Regions from separate parts of the Homo sapiens genome. Here region 1 is linked to region 2. Evidence: fine-mapped expression QTL. A gene starts in region 2. The other region holds a variant in brackets. All regions are shown on one strand. Distances are from middle to middle.

What was found. PIP is the estimated chance that this variant, and not a neighbour inherited with it, causes the effect.
Region 1: its variant is fine-mapped to the expression of CER1 in sigmoid colon (GTEx, PIP above 0.99).

What each region holds. Positions count from the first base shown.
Region 1 is chr9:14,863,041-14,868,427 of GRCh38, reverse strand. FREM1 (FRAS1 related extracellular matrix 1) reads left to right here. Exons shown (of 37, transcript NM_001379081.2): 3 at 4,525-4,619. Among named protein-coding and RNA genes, the nearest start is that of FREM1, 45 kb to the left of the region's middle. The variant A/G (reference allele first, on the strand shown) is at 2,040.
Region 2 is chr9:14,720,118-14,725,504 of GRCh38, reverse strand. It overlaps CER1 (cerberus 1, DAN family BMP antagonist), which reads left to right and starts at 2,772. Exons shown (of 2, transcript NM_005454.3): 1 at 2,772-3,339; 2 at 5,119-5,387. The coding sequence starts at 2,833. RefSeq lists enhancers at 1,747-2,684, 2,685-3,624.

The sequences.
Region 1 (5,387 bases), 140 kb before region 2:
AATTTTTTTCTTAATAATGCACTGTTTCAGTAAGTCTTTCCAATTTCTCCTCTTTCCTGAAGATAACTCTGGTATATCTCACCAGCTGCTTGACCTTATAGAGTAGCTAATTATACAGGAAAAAGCGCAAAGCATCATGTAAGAGAATTACATTGGAGTTATTCCTGCCCCGAGTTATCACATCCATTGCCAGTCAGAGTGGCTTTGGATAAGAGATCAAGATTTCAAGACATTTTTAGGACATACCTGTGACCTTAGCATAGCAAAGGTAAAACTTGAAGATGTTTCATCTATTAACATCACTTAAACATTTTTTCTGAGTAAGGGAAAAGAAGTAGAAAAGAGATGTGAAGATACTTCACTTTAAATATTCACTGTTCTTTGAAATTATCTGCTTAATTTTTTTCCTTTTAATCAAAATCTTGGAGACCTTTATATTTAAGGGTATTCTATTGTCAATCTTCTTGTAGAGTGAAGAGTTACCTCCTAATTCATTGGGTTTAAAAAGTCTATATTCTCTAACACTGTTTTTGCTTAAAGTAGGAGTTACCACTATACATAATTTTAAAAAATTGCTTCTGATTTTATTACTTGTTCCCACTGTCCTGTAACTTTGCTCCCAGTGCAAACAATCTTGAGAATATTCAACACTAGATGCTGCTGCTGCTTCTGGAAAAATGGACCATTCTCTTTTGCTGAACTATGAACTTTATTTCCTTTTCATTTGGCTAAAGAAAACTAATCCACGAGGTTATTGAAAAGTGGTACTAGGTATTACAGAGAGAGAAAAAAAGACTTAGATGGATACTAGCTCAACTGGTGTCTCTAGACACTCCATTTACCACACTTCAAGTTATAGACCCATTCTGAAACACATCAGAATTCTTTGGAAGAGGGTCTCACTTTGCAGGTATTTCTGATGTGGTAGTAACCAAATGTCTCTGCCTAGTTGCTTGTAAGATTTTATCGTCAGTCAAAGAGCTTTAGATGGGTATCTAAAACATGTTAGAATTCAACAATGGCTCCACATATTAGCCATTGTATTCCCAAGTGTTTGGTAGTTGCAGTGTCTCCTCAGTTACTCCCAATTATACTTGCATTCTGAATGTGTTTTGATTGGCACTTACGAGTCAGGGAAAAAGAAGATACCTGGGATTGCTCATACTAGAACCCCAATGTGCTACATAGGATGAGGAAGCAATACAAATAAGCTCAGGAGTGGGTGATAGAGACCCAACTACAGGGACTGGGGTCGAAAGGAAAATGCAGGCTGGTTGCAGTAGCTTACGCCTGTAATTCCAGTACTTTGGGTGGCTGAGGCGGGTGGATCACTTGAGTCCAGGAGTTAGAGACCAGCCTGGTCAACATGGTGAAACTCCATCTCTACTAAAAATACAAAAATTAGCCAGGCGTAGTGGCACATACCTGTAAGCCTAGCTACTCGGGAGGCTGAGACACAAGAATCGCTTGAACCCGGGAGGCGGAAGTTGCAGTGAGCCAAGATAGTGCCACTACACTCCAGCCTGGGTGATAGTGTGAGACTCTGTCTGAAAAAAAAAAGAAAGGAAAATGCAGCCTGTAGAGTTTTGAGAGAGGGTAAAATAGGACACCTGATCCTAGAGGACTGGGGTGTTTGATAAAGCAGGAACCCAGGGCTGTACTGGCACATATGGGTGTCTTATAAAGACTGGTGATTGATAATATGGTACCTCTTCCAATCAATATATTTTTAAAAATCATTCAACATTTATTTAGAAGTGGGCCTGAGTATATTGTGAAAAAGAGAAGAAGGAAAATTCCCACTGGTAGCTCGCAGGAGCAAGCTGTCTAAGCTGTCTTCCAGTTTGGACCTCAAGCATGCATGCCCAACTGAGCAAAACAAAAGCCCTGCAGATGACCAGATTCTCCTTAGTAGGCAATTTGGAGATAATCTATTGTTACCTAAGCCAGCCTCTGAGAGCTCTCCTCTCCCTACCTCAAATGGCCTATGACTCCTTACCGTATATGGCAGTCTCTCTGAGAGAAATAAAATTGTCCCC[A/G]TTATATATCTTTAGTGATGTTTTAATGGTCCTGATTGCTTGGCCTGCTCCAAGGCACTGAGGAGCAAAAAGGGATCCAAGTGACTAGAACTAGGTAAAAAACATTTGTTCACAAGAATCAAGGATTGGAATAGGCCTGCAAGTCATCTCCATCTCACACTCTCTGATTTTAAGGTAAAACTCCAGTTACTAGAAAGACAGTATAGAGGAGAAACCACAAATTGCCTTGGTTGCTGAGAAACACCTCTGAATATACTGATTCCCTAGCCTGCTATTGCTCATTAAGAAAAAGTAGAATCAAGTCATGAATACTTAGTGTATGTATTTCCAGAGGCAAATATGACATCTCAAATGGATTTATAGCCTCTAAAGTCGGTATGGGATTTATATCTTCTAATATTTATTCTGTGGTAAAGGAGTTCATTAAAATATGGAGTTTCAGTACTTTTTTTGGCCAAATATTAAAACTGTGTGTGAGAGAAATCTATATCATGGGAGAACTTTGTTTCTCAAACTGCCAGGTGATTGTTCCTATTTGTTATTCTCATAATTTCAACAAAAACAAGATTCCTAAGTCTGTTTTGTTTTGTTGAATTTGTGCTTGGTTTTTAACGCAGGCTGGTTCAGTCCTTCCCTAGGGGTTCGTTCCTTATGGAGTTTTAGAAATTAAGCATAGCTAAGTGCATGTGCACACACACACACACACACACACACACACACACACACAGCCTAAACATTATTCTTTAATAGAGCTTAGTAATAAGCTGAAAGCCAAGCTTATGTGAACCCATTTCTAGCAAGACGACTGTATTAACAACACCCTGCTGTGTAATGAACAGTTTCATGTGACTTGCACAGAAAATGTTTTGTTTAACATCTGTTCAATTAGTGTTTTCATTTCATTACTGAAGTTTGTCTTAGGATCAACAGGTTCATTTTCCTGTTGAATATTTGGAAAGGGATTTCAGTTGATGCACACCAGTGCCTTCTGTTCAGATAACCCTCTTGATATAGTCAATTAGATGAGGTTGATGGCAATATGTTTTCCTCATGTTTTAGGACAAGACTCCCTCACACATGGCACTTCTCACACCTAGCCCAAAGCAAGAAATTTGCTGGGTGGAAAGCACCCCAGGTTAGCACTAAACTTGCTTTTTTGAATAGGAAATATAGCGGTAAGAAAGTATCTCTACTTTGAACCATTTTACTGTCATTAAAGTGAGTAATGAGCTAGGAATGTGTGACAATTTAATTATAAATTGTAATTGAAAAGCAGTTGAAGTGGAAAAAAACAAAGCTAGACAGTAATTAGAAAAGGATTTAGCTCTCCTTTGTTTTAGTTAGTAAATTTATGGACAATTATGGTTGTCGCCTTTTATAAAAGGAAAACATATTATGAAACATAAAACAGATGTTTCTTTTAACAAAGCAGACTGTCTCTTTATTACCATGACTATTTGTCAATGATATGGGGAAGGTCTTTGCTTTATCTCCTTCCTAGTTGTCAATTTAAAAGAGGAATCAATGATATCTGCGGGAAAAGAAAATCGTTTGTATTAGTGGTAAAGTCTTCTCTGAGTGAATTATGTTGTCTGAAAATGTTTGAGGCTGTGAAAAGGTACAGACGAAACACCACGAACACAATGGTGGACATGCGTGCATACCTCAAGGGTATTAGAACTCTACCAGAGTCAGATTGGGCAGAATGAAGGGCATGATATGGGTGGGAGAGATGATTCTTCCTCTAAAAATCAGGTTCCCAAAATATAACAGTTAACAATCTCCTAATAATTCTGAGTGAGTTGAGACAGTTCATTATAATTTTATTTGAATAGAGGAAATTGCTTTTAGATTTCTGTTTTTCTCATCTGCCATTTCTGCTATTGCCTAACTAATGAAAGCAGTTTTTTGCAAGTATGCAAGACACAACTCTGGGTCATGTTAGGCTCTGATTAACCACAGTAGTGTCCATAGTCAGTGGCTTCATCTTTGAATATGAGAATACTATTCGGAAAAAAAAAGAAATGAAAGGAGAACACAGATATACAGAAAGAATACAGTGTGTTTGTGGGTGGGTTAAAGCATGCCTTTTCATGCAGACACACAGAAAGAACTCTCTAACTCAATTGCTGTGAACCCCTGAAAGGGGTAAATAAAATTTCGAAAAATGAAAGTATGTTTTAAATGCACTCTAGGTGGTAAAAAGACACTTATTTAGAGACGTAATCATCCCTTAACTAATTTTCTTGAACTGCTTTGGTTTTCACAACTTAGATATTCTCAAAACAAGAGACAGCTGTATAAGTAGGATGGTGACTGGGTATGGGGGTAGGGTAGAGGTGGTGGTGGTGAAGACACACACACTCACACACATACACACATTACTAACAGAGCATATTTTCTCCAGGCAGTGCTCTCCTGGCAAAATGTTAAATCTTGTACCAATTTTCTCATAGATATTTATCCAATTCTTCATGTGAACTAGGTCTTTGACTGCCATTTCCTTCCCAACGAAGTCAAGTATGTTCACAATGGTTGTCCAATTCTTGATGAAGACACAGTGAAGCTCAGACTTTACAGGTAAGCGGCACGGGAACATCGCTCATTTGCTGCCAAGTAACCATTCTGTGTTCTTATGAGGGCTTTTCTTGTGGATATGTATTGTCATGAGGGGAGTTAATAGATTCCAGACAAGAAAGTAATCAACAGAAACTGGAGGCCTGAGTGGATCAGGCAAGATTTGTAGCCAACTTTCAGTTATTTCCACTTGTGTCATCTTCCCTAGGATTCTTCTGTGGCAAATTTTTAGCCGTATCCTGTTTCCCTCTAGTGTCCTTATATAGGTATCTCTGGTGTTCCAACCCACCACTTATGGTAGAAAATGGAAATTATAAACTACAAATTCTTAATGAAAATCAGGGAGAAAATATATTCCAAAAATGAATGAAATTCTTCTTTTTTGTTACCAGCTGTTTAGTTACAGAAAGTGCAATATCTTCCATTTTTAAACATATTAAATATTTAAAATTCCTTTTTTTTTTTTTTTTTGAGACGGAGTCTTGCTCTGTCACCCAGGCTGGAGTGCAGTGGCGCAATCTCGGCTCACTGCAACCTCTGTCTCCCAGGTTCAAGCTATTCTCCTGCCTCAGCCTCCTGAGTAGCTGGGACTACAGGCGCCCACCACTACGCCCGGCTAATTTGTTGTATTTTTAGTAGAGGTAGGGTTTCACCGTGTTAGCCAGGATGGTCTTGATCTCCTGACCACATGATCTGCCTGTCTCCGCCTCCCAAAGTGCTGGGATTACAGGGATGTGCCACCATGACTGGCCTAAAATTCTTTAAAAATCA
Region 2 (5,387 bases):
GCAGCATATTTTTGCTGAAAGCTACAAAATCTTCACTTATTTTCTTAAGAGATTATAATGTATTACATTATACATATATTACATGTTATACATACATAATTATACACACATAATTATACACACACAGTGTATCAATGGCTTTAGAATTGGTGAATGGACACGATAGTGAAAGGTGATAGTCATTGCCTTTAGCTGAAAAAGGCAGAGGTTGGAGATAGGCTTGTTTCATAGTTCTCATCACAGAAGGCTTGGCTTTGCTAGATTTACTTTTCACGGATAGTATTTACTAATGGGAGTAGGGAGAATATTTCAAGATATTTGCACATTTTCTCAAAAGAAGTGACAGAACAGCAAAAGGATATTCTCTGTGAGTGATTTTTAAATGGCACTTATAAGCCCCAAATTAGGATCAGAGGAAGGGAAGTTTAGGACTAAAGGAAAGTGAAAAATGGATAACTGACATCCCTATAGATGATTTTATACAATAAAGTTAGATGATGCATAAGAAATCCCACTAGACTATCTAACCTACTTGAGGGCAGGGACAAAGTTTTACTCATTTTTCAATTATCTACCAGTATCTAATATGATTCTTAACACACAAAGTGAGTCTTCTACACATTGCAGTTCAACAGGAATTATCTCAACTGTATCTCATGTTCAGTAATTCCAGAGCCAAGCAAACTGAGACCCGAGATAGAATTTCTGAGATTGTCTTTAGTTTTGGGAAATAGTAGATACTCTGATTGATAACAATGGAATTTCAGTTACTGAAAAGTAACAGTTAAAAGGATTCAGGAAAGGTATCACAGCTGGCTTCCACACCATATTATACCAGGAGGCCTAGTGACTAGCTCTGGAAAGCGTATAGCATTGGATGGCTGAGGGGAATTAAGAAATTCAAGTAGCAGTCAATTAAAAAAAAAAAGATGTTGACATAGCATGGTGGCTCACGCCTGTAATCCCAGCACTTTGGGAGGCAGAGGCAAGATGGTGGCTCAAGGCTAAGAGTTTCAGAGCAGCTTGGGCAACAGAGTGAGGCTCTGTTTCAACAACAACACAAAATTTTAAATAGCCAGGTGTGGTAGTGTGCCTGTAGTCCCAGCTACTCAGGAGGCTTGCTTGAGCCTAGGAGTTTGAGGTTACAGAGTGCTATGATTGCACCACTGCACTCCAGACTGGGCAACAGAGCAGAACCCTTTTCCTAAAATAAAAAAAAACAATGGCAAATACACATGCTTATTTATTATATATCAACAGCACCTTTCATTAATACTAGCACACGTTCCATAGATATTTGGTACAAGTACAATATATCTCCACTCATGGCATTCTGGTAAAGTGATGGTCCATGTTAAAAATAGCTCATTATCATGGGTAAAGGGACTTACTTAAGGCTTTATTTCATAGAAATCAGGCATGGCTATCAAGAAGAACAGAAATGCCTGGAAAACAGACTCCAGTGGGTCACTTCTTGGAAAGAAAGTTTAATCAGTATTGACAAAAAAGGGGGAACATGTTCCAGGACTATTTGTGTTATTGAAAGCAAGGAATATAGTGATTGAATTAAAAGGGGAGAAATAAAAGCAGATATTGCATTGCTTCCCAGTGGAAATACTGTTTGAATCATGTGGTAGGCTGATCGGACTCTATTCTGGGGTTTCAGTTTTCTGGACGTGTTTCTTTTTCGTATCCTAGGCTGATTCATGATAGTTTTGAATGATAGTTATTTTTCAATTTTTCCTTTGATCCCCGAAGACTCTTATTTGTGTCAATCTTTATTTAGCCTGGCCATCAATTAGTGTAAAACAAGGGGAGATGATGTGGATTCAATAAGGTAAGAAACTGACTAGCCAGCGTCACACACAAAGTTATCAAACCTGGTTCTTAGAATCCACGTTCTCATGTCTGGCTCTTTGTTCAAAGGGAAAAAAAAATCAATAGGATGGCTGGAGGGAGACATTTCCCTATCCTCATTGAAGACTGATGAGCTGTCAGTCTATTACGTGGTATCCTGTTGAGGAACATGTGAACAATTGGAAGAGTTTATCTGATGACTGACCAGTTGTGAAATTTAGCACCCATTAATTGATTCTTAATGTGAGAGGATTAACTTGGGAATTGTGAGTTTCTACGTGTGGAAAGGAAAACATATTCCCTTTACTCAGTTACTGTGCAAAAATCAATAACCCCAATTTGCATGTAAGTAAGAAACAATATGTCCCTTGCTCAAAAAAATTAACATCCTTCTAGCTCTTCCTTTCTTCTCCTTACAACTTTGATATACTTCTTCGTGTGTGTGTGTGTGTGTGTGTGTGTGTGTGTGTGTGTGTGTGTGTGAATAGCCTTCCTAAAGGCCTGGGCTTTTTCTAAATGTATGCCTTTAATTTTTATCCAAAAACTTCTCTTACAGCAACATGTCTTGTCTATTCTATTCCAGCACAAGGCAGATGCACAGCAAATGTGAGCTGACTCTAGTCCTTCTTCTGAAAACAGCCATGGGAAATTTAGGCAAAGAATGTGTTGTCTTTGCTAATACTGCTCTTTAAGCCCCAGACATAGCTAAACTCTTAGCTAATTACCCCCTGGGTCCCAGGCTTTCACTGGGGCCTTTTAAAATACACAAAACCAAAGTGACGGCAGGAGGCCATTAGCACTACATAATTCAAGCAAACAATAAATGTGTTTATTCTGCCTGGCTACTGACCACCTGCCTTCCCATCCCGCCAGGCAGGTATCTATATATACGATTTCCTTTTTCCCAGTCCTGCAGAGAATGAGCCTCTCCTTTGGGCCTCATCATTTACAAAAGAAGCTTGGGCCCCTGACAGCATGCATCTCCTCTTATTTCAGCTGCTGGTACTCCTGCCTCTAGGAAAGACCACACGGCACCAGGATGGCCGCCAGAATCAGAGTTCTCTTTCCCCCGTACTCCTGCCAAGGAATCAAAGAGAGCTTCCCACAGGCAACCATGAGGAAGCTGAGGAGAAGCCAGATCTGTTTGTCGCAGTGCCACACCTTGTAGCCACCAGCCCTGCAGGGGAAGGCCAGAGGCAGAGAGAGAAGATGCTGTCCAGATTTGGCAGGTTCTGGAAGAAGCCTGAGAGAGAAATGCATCCATCCAGGGACTCAGATAGTGAGCCCTTCCCACCTGGGACCCAGTCCCTCATCCAGCCGATAGATGGAATGAAAATGGAGAAATCTCCTCTTCGGGAAGAAGCCAAGAAATTCTGGCACCACTTCATGTTCAGAAAAACTCCGGCTTCTCAGGGGGTCATCTTGCCCATCAAAAGCCATGAAGTACATTGGGAGACCTGCAGGACAGTGCCCTTCAGCCAGGTATGTGTTCTGGGGGGAGAGCAGGTAAGAGTTTGCAGGTGGTAGTGGACAGCTGGGATGGATGGAGAGTAGGGGAAAAGGCTGTCAGGAGCCTGACTCTAGCTTAACTACAGATTTGGTCCTTGGGCATTCATCATAGGATTTGGCAAAGATTAAGTTTCCTTCTGGCCTTTCCATTTTTTCTTGGCATTGTGGAAATGCTGCAAGAATGATATGATGATACTGTCAATATCAGTAATCATTCATTCACACTGAAGACACAGAGCTCTGTTTTATTTATTTATTTTTGCATTGGAGGTGATCTACTCAGAGATATAAGTCAGACTGTACCCTCAGTTAGGAAACTGAGAATTTAGAGTAATCACCAGAACTCCTCTGTAGCTATCTTTCTGCACTCTATTAATATGTGGATGAGCAGGTCAACTCCATTTGTTGATAAAGTGGGGTGCATTGGACTCCTTCCCAAATACTCTCATATCCATTTACGATGGTCTTAATCCCCATAGTCCATACTTAATTACTTTATAGGTTTATGAGGGACTTCTTTAATAGCTTGCTAAAGCTATCCCACAACCTCAAAGTACGTTGAGGTTCTCAGGCAAAAGTTGTCATATCATTTCTAGTATTATGATAGCAAAAAAGTGATTTTCTTTCACTTATTTTCTCATATGAGCTTTTTAAAAAATCAATCTTGATGTGAGATCATATCTCCTCCCCTTAGAAGTACCTTTCTCCTGATTCATGTTGTGTTGGCTGATTTGTAGTTATTATGATCAATTCCATGCTATTAAGACAAAGGGACATCCTACTGTCTACTTCCTCTGGCAATATCTACATTCCAAATGTTAAATTAAAATTGAGAACTTGCATTAGGTCCTTAAACATGAAGATATTGAACCAAAAACATGCAGGGTAGAGTAAAATTTTATAGTCGAGTAATGCTACCCAATTAAGCAAGCAATAGAATAGGGCAATTGACTGTTCAAGGCAGTTAAGTATTCTGCCTGAAAAGGCAAGGATATGTAGCAATGGCAAGTCAATTATCAAATAATAATGACTACTCTGTTGGCCATGTGCAATTAGAAAATTACCCCTAAGAATCAGGCAATCAAATTTCTTTTGAAATTCTTCTTTTGAATTCTATTGCTAATTAAATTAAAACTAAGATGTTTGACTCTTACATATTTTGAAAGGCATATAAAGCTAGGTGCTTGGAGTTATGAGAGGTAAAGGTGATGTAATATACAATGATTTGCAGGCATATGCATTGTAACTCTGCTTGCATACAACTTCATAGACTTGAATGTACTACAGGTCTTGCAGAATAGGATAGAATTAAACCTAGAATGTTCTGATCTATTCTACGATCAATGTAACAAATATGTATTGGGAGCCTACTATGCACAAAGCCCTGTGAGGAATAAAAAAGTAAGGCACATTACTTATGTAAGATAATTACCATTAGAATTTTTCAATCGCTCACATCCAATTAGACAAAATTGCTTAAGGTTTTGCACGAATAATGTAGAGTAAAATATTTTTTATGTTAACTTAGGGATTCCCTAAAGGCTGTTTAATAATTTACTCAATAAAGAAAATTTAATTGAGGTGGTTCTGTGCCCTTATAGATACCATCACTTGCATATTGCAAATTGTATCCAAAATTGGAAAGCTTTGAAATTTTTAAATTATCCTCAGATTTACAGTCCATAGCTTCTGCATTATGTGTGTTAAAGAAATAATTCAAAATAACGTAATGGAAATGTGTTTGCTTTTTAGACTATAACCCACGAAGGCTGTGAAAAAGTAGTTGTTCAGAACAACCTTTGCTTTGGGAAATGCGGGTCTGTTCATTTTCCTGGAGCCGCGCAGCACTCCCATACCTCCTGCTCTCACTGTTTGCCTGCCAAGTTCACCACGATGCACTTGCCACTGAACTGCACTGAACTTTCCTCCGTGATCAAGGTGGTGATGCTGGTGGAGGAGTGCCAGTGCAAGGTGAAGACGGAGCATGAAGATGGACACATCCTACATGCTGGCTCCCAGGA